Homo sapiens: one gene and its partner. The protein of the gene in region 1 purifies or fractionates together with the protein of each later gene. This does not show direct contact. Each region holds a gene or a part of one and is shown on either strand. Other genes may lie near its edges.

What was found. The genes of interacting proteins can lie anywhere in the genome.
Region 2: the proteins of CYLD (region 1) and CSE1L purify together in Homo sapiens (affinity purification with mass spectrometry, with the first as the bait; 2 studies listed by BioGRID). This does not show direct contact.

Annotation. Positions count from the first base shown.
Region 1 is NC_000016.10:50,775,747-50,780,760, forward strand, and holds part of CYLD (ubiquitin carboxyl-terminal hydrolase CYLD), read left to right. Parts: intron 1-432; coding exon 433-531; intron 532-2,078; coding exon 2,079-2,195; intron 2,196-3,918; coding exon 3,919-4,298; intron 4,299-5,014. UniProt on the Homo sapiens protein: Deubiquitinase that specifically cleaves 'Lys-63'- and linear 'Met-1'-linked polyubiquitin chains and is involved in NF-kappa-B activation and TNF-alpha-induced necroptosis.
Region 2 is NC_000020.11:49,049,312-49,053,535, forward strand, and holds part of CSE1L (exportin-2), read left to right. Parts: intron 1-4,224. UniProt on the Homo sapiens protein: Export receptor for importin-alpha. Mediates importin-alpha re-export from the nucleus to the cytoplasm after import substrates (cargos) have been released into the nucleoplasm.

The sequences.
Region 1 (5,014 bases):
TTATCTTTGTTTATCTCAGCATCTTCAAGAAATATTTGAGTTCGAAACACTTCATAATACACAGGGGTGTTCTAAGCCTGCTGATTTGGGAAATGCTGTAAAAAACCGAGTAAGATTTTCTTTGTAGTGTTTTAAGAGATCAAATAAAATTGACTACAAGTGATTAAATTTTCAAGAGGTTAAAGCATTTAGCTGAATTGTATTTTGAGAGGGTATTTTCTTATAGAAATTACATTTTGAAATACAGCATTGGTTTTTTCCCCCATAGTATTATCTTTTTCAATACTTTTGATGGCCTTTAAAAGGCATTTGTAAAACTAAAAATTCTGCCTTTTTGTGGAAAGAGGGTTTTTTTATTTTGTTACTGTCATTCCTTGTTTCTCTTCTATAAGAATTTGCCTTTATCTTTAAAAAACATGCTTACTGTTTCAGAGAGTGTGACGCAGGAAAGGAGGCCTCCCAAACTTGCCTTTATGTCAAGAGGTGTTGGGGACAAAGGTTCATCCAGTCATAATAAACCAAAGGCTACAGGTATGGATTAATAGCATATAACCTTTAGTAATTTGCATAATGCCTAACTTGCCATAGCATTAAAAAAGATTATAAGCTATTACTTCTGAACATGTATGTAGACTTTTTTTCTTTCAAACATTTTTAGTAGTGAAACTAAAGTTTGTATATAAATACTGTTGCTTAAGCCAAGTGTTCCCAGCCTTTTTTACCTCAGGAAGAGTTCCCCATAGGGTCTTGTGTGTTTTGCTGGTCTATAATCAAATGGTTTTTGGAACTCCTTACTTGGAATATTTGTATGTATAGTTTAGGATTGCAACTGTGTAAAATAATCCTATATGGATAATGTTATATAGGATAAAGTATACTAGAGGTTAATTAAATGGATTTTGCTAACTAGATTTGGTACAAATTAAATCCCAAACTGCTAAGCAAAAATTTCTTCTCTTTCCCAGAAGCTTCCTCACAATATGTGTGGAGCTTACAGCTCTTTTTTTTGTTAGCTTCCACATACTTCATAGATTTATAGAATAGTAGTTATACAAGCCAAAGAGCTCATTAAAAAGGCTCTGAGAATTTTTGTTAACTCAGATGCGAGTTAGGAAAAGAATATTTTTTCCTCAATTATTACAATTTTGGCTCATTTAAAAGGAAATTGTACTTTAAGAATTATTTTATGTGACATTGGGGCCTGGGAGACTTAGGATTAATTGCAGGATATATAGGTAACAGTCTTTTTTATGTTAACCTATAGATCTATATAGGATAGCTCAAACTTGCTACTCTCACTTAAATAGAAACAGACTAAAGATTTTCTTAAGCTATGGCATGTTAATTGTATTGTAGTAGATCTTAAAGTTATAAAATGTACAGCTACCTGCTTTAATTTGAAAAGGGAAATCAGCTTTTTTGTGGGTTCTGGAGAGCCCACTGCCCTCCACTGTGTGTGGTATGTCCTTGAATTAATACTGAGGCAGGGTAATGTCATGAAATGGCTGTGGCATAGCTACACTCGCCCTCTCACGTATAATAAATCCAATCTGTAAGAAATAATAGTGCTTGATTTTTTCAAAGACACAAGGAATTTGATGACCAAAAATTCCAAAATGTTTAAAACTTAACTATTTTTAAATGTAATTTGTGTATTGATTTATATATAGAATTTGAGGATTACCTTCTTTTAAAATAATAGGTTAAATTTGTGAACCAATGGGTCTATGAAATGAAGCTGGAGAATGGTGATTTTGACATTTAGAAATAAGCTGTGGTACATGGAACAATTTCTTAAAGCAGTTCATTTTTTTTAAAAATGAGTGGGCTTTTCTTTTAACTTACTCCTGTTTCCCTCCTATCTTGACTTTTGGGCTGAAAAATATTTTTAATATTGTCAAAATGGTTACCAAATTTTTAAAAGCTGAAGACAGTTAAAAAACATATTGTGTTTATATACATTTATTGGTTATGTAAACAGTTATTAACATCATATTCATAATAATTTCTCTTACTAAAAAAAAACTTTGATGCTATATTGACTTTATTTTTAAATGAAACTTTTCTTGTTCCTATAGGATCTACCTCAGACCCTGGAAATAGAAACAGATCTGAATTATTTTATACCTTAAATGGGTCTTCTGTTGACTCACAACCACAATCCAAATCAAAAAATACATGGTACATTGATGAAGGTAATCAGTAATTTTAGTGTTCTTTATAATGATCCTTTCTTTCTAACTCATCAGAGAAAAATGGTTTTTTATATCAATATTTGTAGTTTTTGGAAACAGAATAAGTAGACCGCTCTTTGTAATATTGCTGAACTAAAATATTGTACACAGTTTGAACCGTACTGCTGTTAAGATTATTAAAATGTTTAAGAAATGTATTAGTAATTTGTTCTTTTCCTTTAACTGCTGATCTATTTAGGGTGGAAGATTTCTGTCTGGTTCCTTCCTGACCTCTTTAAAGCACTCCCTTTTAAAAAATTTTATCTTCCCTTGGTCCTGGGACATCATTTTCACCTAGTTTATTCTCTTCTTTGTTCATTTGTTCAACAAATATTTATTGAGTGCTTATGATTGCCAGGCATTCTTTTAGGCATCAAGATGAAAATGGTGAGAAAAAATAGACATGGTTCATGCCCTTTGTGAGTTTGCAGTTGTTAAGTTGTTGAGATAGAAATTAGTCAAACAACCACAGACACAGTAGAGTTGCCTTGGTGGTGTGTGCAGTGAAGGTGCATGATGCTGTGAGAATACACCAAAGATGATTTTTCTCAGGGTCTTAGGGGTGTTTCTTTGGGGCAGTGACACATGCTTAGGTTTACCAGAGGAGTGACAGATGACAAAGTGAAAGGGGCTAGAACTTCCTCGGGAGAAGAAATAGCATAGGGAAAGTCCTCCTGGAAGAATGGAAGCTAGTGTTTGCCAGGGACTAGAACACAGACAGAGGCATGACATTCATGAGATGAGAATGGAAAGGCAAACAGGCCTGACTCTGTGGTCTCCCAGCCTTTAGAGTTTTGCCTGCCACATTTGTTTTTAAGGCACCTGGAGCTGATTTTCATGTAAAGTATGAGTAGGATTCCTGTTTAATTTTTTTTTAAAAATATGGATAACCAATTATCTCAACAGCATTTAGTAAGAAGTTCATTCTTTTGTCATTGATCTGCAATACCTGCCTGTCAGCTGTATTAGTCATTTTAAGAAAATAGCTTTTGGCTGTGGCTCTCTTTATCATGTGTTTGGTTTCTCTTAAATTACATTCTGTGTTTGTGTTTATTCTGGCTTTGAACTTCTTATTGTATGTTTGTTTTCTCTCTTCTGTTGTTTCTGTTCTTTAGTTTATTCTTCTCTACTTTTTTGAGGGTTATTCTGTTCTTTTAACTTCCCAAGTTGTATGCTGAGTTCATATTTAGCTTTTGTTTTTTTCTGAAATAAGCAATGAAGTCTATAAAATTCCCTTATAAGTATTAATTTAGCCATGTTTCACAAGGATTCTTTCTTTCTTTGTTACTTTTTCTCTCTTTTTTCTTTATTGTTAAAACGTATTATTTCTTTTTTGATCCATTAGATATATAGAAGCGTTTCTTAAGGTTTTCGGTATCTTTTTGTACTGCCTTCTCAATTAATTGTATTTTGGACAAAGACTATCACGTATACGATACCCGCTGATAATAGATTTTTTTGGTTTGAACAGTTGGGTGCCATTGACTGAGGTGCATAAATATGGAGGTGGAGAGAGGAGCGAGAACACTGTTGGAGATAATAACTTTGTGATGCCTATGAGAGTACTATTAATAGCAGGGAGGTCAGGTGGGCAGTTGGACTAGATCTGTATATAAATTTTTAGAAATGTAAGACAGAGTCAATATCCTTGAATACATTTCTGTAATTAGGAATAATTTTTTAGTTGCAGAAGACCCTGCAAAATCTCTTACAGAGATATCTACAGACTTTGACCGTTCTTCACCACCACTCCAGCCTCCTCCTGTGAACTCACTGACCACCGAGAACAGATTCCACTCTTTACCATTCAGTCTCACCAAGATGCCCAATACCAATGGAAGTATTGGCCACAGTCCACTTTCTCTGTCAGCCCAGTCTGTAATGGAAGAGCTAAACACTGCACCCGTCCAAGAGAGTCCACCCTTGGCCATGCCTCCTGGGAACTCACATGGTCTAGAAGTGGGCTCATTGGCTGAAGTTAAGGAGAACCCTCCTTTCTATGGGGTAATCCGTTGGATCGGTCAGCCACCAGGACTGAATGAAGTGCTCGCTGGACTGGAACTGGTAATTTAACTTGACCCAAAAATTTCAATTTTTTTCTCTGTGAGGTTTTGTGCAGATTTCGCCCTATTATATGCTTTTTGACAAACTGTTATATTTGTCAGAAAAGCTATCACTGCAGAATAATTTTCTCACCATGTTTTCTGACTTCCCTTTGCCGCCCCTGAAGCTTGCGACCCACTTGTCCTAATGTTAGTTGATTTATGTTCAAGGAATGAAAGTTGATTTTTAGGCCAATCGATTTAGGCTCCTTATATTAAACAGAATTTAGTAAATCAAGCAAATTTGCCATCAGCTTTTCTCTTTCTTCTTCAGCCCCTTCCCCTGGTCAGTTCTAATAATTATATCACTGGCTTTAAAGTTAATCACCATTTTTAGAGATCTTTTGAGACCTTTGCTAGAGGGAAAGGTTTTCCCTTTAGAGATCAGGAGAACATATCATTTGATATTTTGTAATCAGGAAAGGAGAAGTTGAGTATGTTTAGGATTTATTTAGAGATGGGGTCTCACTCTGTCACCCAGACTGGAGTGCAGTAGCACGGTCAGGGCTCACTGCAGCCTCGACCTCCTGGGCTCAAGCTATTCTCCTGCCTCAGTCACCTGAGTAGCTGGAATTACAGACATGTACCATCATGCTTGGTAATTTTTTGTATTTTTAGTAGAGACAGGGTTTTGCCATGTTGCCCAGGCTGGTCTCAAACTCCTGGACTCAAGTGATC
Region 2 (4,224 bases), on another chromosome or scaffold:
TAGCTAGGACTACAGGCGTGCACCACCACACTCAACTAATTTTTATTTTTTTTTTGTAGAGATGGCACCATGTTGCCCAGGTTGGTCTCAAACTCCTGGACTCAACCAATCTGCTTACCTTGGCCCCCCAAAGAGCTGGGATTACAGGCATGAGCCACCCTACTTGGCCAAAATGAATGTTTTGTTTCTAGTTTGAGTCATTTTTAGATCAGTAACACTTTTTGCATTTATATATTGCTAATATTTCAGAGTGTCAAAGTACCTTTACTTGTGGTTGCATAAGATAATTAGAGCTTGATCTTGTTGATAATTATGAATACCTGTAAAATGTTCTCTAAAAGTCCCTGATTTCTCTTATTTTCTCAAATTAAGGATAAGCTTAGAATTCGGTTTTATAGACTATATCTGCAAGGCGATATAAAAAGGATTTGTTGACAAATAGTTCCTTAAAGAATATTCCCAAAGAATAAACTTTGGAAGGCCAAGGTGGGCGGATCACTTGAGCTCAGGAGTTCCAGACCAGCCTGGGCAACACTGGAACCATGTCTACAGAAACAACACAAAAATTAGCCAGGTGTGGTGGTGTGTGCCTGTAGTCCCAGCTACTTGGGAGGTTGAAGTAGGAGGATGGCTTGAGCCCAGGAGGCAGAGGTTTCAGTGGGCCAGAATTACACCACTGCATTTCTCCAGCCTAGGTAACAGACCCAGACCCTGTCTCAAAAAAGAGTATTAAGATTCTGGGATCTATGTAGTATTTTAACTTTGAGGGATTATAACATGCATATTTATATAACCCCTCACTTTTTTTTAAACTTAAAAATAGTCCTACCCTAGCATCTCAACTTAATCATTTTAGGTTTCATTCTATTATGTGGTTTTATTTATTTATTTTTATTTTATTTTATTTTATTTTATTTTATTTTTGGAGACAGGGTTTCACTCAGTCACCCATACTGGACTGCAGTGGCAAGACCTCAGCTTATTGCAGCCTAGACCTCCCGGGCTCAAGCAATCCTCCTGCCTCAACTTCCCTAGTAGCTAGGACCACAGGAGGGTATCACCAAGCCCAGCTAATTTTTTTTTTTTTTTTTTTTTTTTTTTGAGATGGGAGTTTCACTTTTGTTGCCCAGGCTAGAGCTAGAGTGCAATGGTGCAGTCTTGGCTCATTGAAACCTCTGCCTCCCGGGTTCAAGCAATTCTCCTGTCTCAGCCTCCTGAGTAGCTGGGATTACAGGCGCATGCCACCACGCCCGGCTAATTTTTTTTTTTTTGTATTTTTAGTAGAGACGGGGTTTCATCACATTGGTCAGGCTGGTCTCGAACTCCTGACCTCAGATGATCCGCCTGCTTCGGCCTCCCAAAGTGCTGGGATTACAGACGTAAGCCACCGCGCCCGGCCTGAGCCCAGCTAATTTTTAAAATTTTTTGTAGAGACAGGATCTCACTATTGTTGCCAAGTCTGGTCTTGAACGGTCCTTGGGGTCAAGTGATCGTCCCATCTCCACCTCCCAAAGTGCTGGGATTACAGAAGTGAGCCACCTTGCTCAGCCTGTTGTGGTTTTAGAATCTAGAAGGTTGTGTCCACCTCTTTCTGTTTGACACAGTCAACCAACCAAAATAAAGATGAAGAATAATATTTTTGATGGAAACATCAAAGGTATCTAGCTTTTTAAAATAGTACAACAAATATATAACGGGTGCTCATCACTATTGTAAGGCTCTAGGGAGAGAGCAGTGAACAAAGCACAAAGTCCCTACTATCAGTGGAGTTTACAATCTAGTGAAGAGAGAAGCACAGTAAATGACAAAAGAAATTAATATGCCTGATAAAATGTACTTGGAAAATAGTAGAGTAAGGGCATGGAGAGTAACTGAGGTGAATGCTCTTTTAGATAGGATGGTGCAGCAAGGCATCTCTGAAAAAAAGATGACATTTGAAAAGAGTCCTTCCAGGCCGGGCACGGTGGCTCATGCCTGTAATCCCAGCACTTTGGGAGGCTGAGGCGGCAGATCACCTGAGGTCAAGAGTTTGAGATTAGCCTGGCCAACACGGTGAAACCGCATCTTTACTGTATATAAAACTCAGCCGGGCGTGGTGGCACGCACCTGTAGTCCCAGCTACTTGGGAGGTTGAGGCAGGAGAATTGCTTGAACCTGGGAGGCGGGGACTGCGGTGAGCTGAGATCACGCCACTGCACTCCAGCCTGGGTGACAGAGCAAAGACCCCTGTCTCCAAAAAAAACAAGAGTCCTGAATGAGAATGAAGTGGGCAGTGCAAACCTTGTAGCTTTCCGTGTGCAGAGCTCTGCAGGCAGAAGGAATGGTAAGTACAGAACCCTGAAACAAAAGTAAAATCACTGGCATGTTTGAACAGGTAATACAGGATAAATTTTATCTTTTTTCAGAGACAGAGTCTTACTCTGTTGCCCAGATTGGAATGCAATGGCATGATCATAGCTCACTGCAGCCTTAAAATTCTGAGCTTAACCAGTCCTTCTGCCTCAGCCTCCAGAGCAGCTGAGACTACAAGTGCTCGCCACCATGCCTGGCTAATTTTTATTTATTGTAGAGACAGGGTCTCACTATGTTGCCCACGCTGGTCTTGAAATCCTAGCCTCAAGTGATCCTTCCGCCTCGGCCTTCCAAAGCGCTGGGATTACAGGCATGAGCCATTCTGCCAGGCCAGAACAAATCTAAAAATTCACTTTCTTGAAGTACTTTTGAATAAACAAATTTAATTGTGGCAGTTAAGTTGGTCATTTGTTCATCTGACATTCATGCAACTGAGTTCCCACATTATGTTGGGGCTGCTAATGATTGATCTGAAGGGATAGTCTCCAGTCTTGACTGGAAACTCATGTTTTGCTGGGTGACTGACATGTTGTGACTTATCCTTTAGTTCATACAACAAATGCTTACTAAATATGTACTGTGTGCCAGGTAATGCTGAAGGTCCTGAGCATACAGACGAAAGTCCCTGCCCTCAGGAGCTTGCAGTCTAGTGTGTGTATGAGACGACAAAGAAGTTTATTTCAAATGAGGGTAATTGCTAACACAGTAAAACAAGGATGATGTAGATGGTAATCGTAGAAGGCCTTTTTGAAGAGTTGACAGTGGGCTGAGTGCTGAATGGTGTCCATTATCAAATTAGAGGATGAGCATTATTATGGTCAGGGAGAACTCTTGTGGCCAGTTTGTAGAACAGAAGGCTTTTGTGCCTGGAATGTAGCAAGAGCCAGGAGGAGGTAGGAGATGAGGTCAGTAGATACCAGATTGCTTAGACCCTGCTGTGGTAAGGGATTTGGTGGTGGTGGTGGTGGTGGTGGTTGTTTTGGAGATAGGGTCTCACTCCCATTGCCCAGTCTGTAGTGCAGTGGCCTGATCACAACTCACAGCAGTCTCAATTTGCTGGATCTACAGGTGTGTGCCACCACACCTGGCTAATTTTTTGTATATTTAGTAGAGACAGGGTCTTGCTGTGTTAGCCCAGGCTGGTCTGAAGCCGGCTGAAGCAATCCACCTGCCTTGGCCTCCCAAAATGCTGGGCTAACAGGCGGCAGCCACTGCACCTGGCCAGGAGTTTGGGTGTTTAAGACAAGTAATTATGAGGAATCTAAGGAGTTTTAGTTGAGAAATATACAAATGCTAGAGAAACATAATGAAGAAAGTGAAATGCAGATTTATTAAGAAGTGTATTTTTAAAAATCAAGAAAATAAGCCCTGTGTGGTGGCATATGCCTGTAGTCCCAGCTATTCCAGAGGCTGAGGCAGGAGGATTGTTTGAGCTCAGGAGTTAGAATCCAATCTGGACAATACAGTGAGACCCCCTGTCTCTCTTTTTTTTTTTTTTTTTTTTTTTTAAAGACAAAATAGATCTGTAAATCTGCCCCTGCACCCTCCCCACCCAAGTTTCTAACAATCTGCCTTGCATGAATCCCCAAAGGTAGAATAAATTTGCATATGGCAAAGAAAGGCCAATTTCCTTTAACTCAGATACACTGATGTTAATGATTTAACTTGACCACAGCAAACTAACTTTTTTTTTTTTTTTTTTTTTTTTTTTTGAGACTGCGTTTCTCTCTTGTTGCCCAGGCTGGAGTGCAATGGCGCAATCTCGCCTCATTGCAACCTTTGCCTCCCAGGTTCAAGCAATTCTCCTGCCTCAGCCTCCCAAGTAGCTGGGATTACAGGCATGTGCTACCAGGCATGGCTAATTTTTAGTAG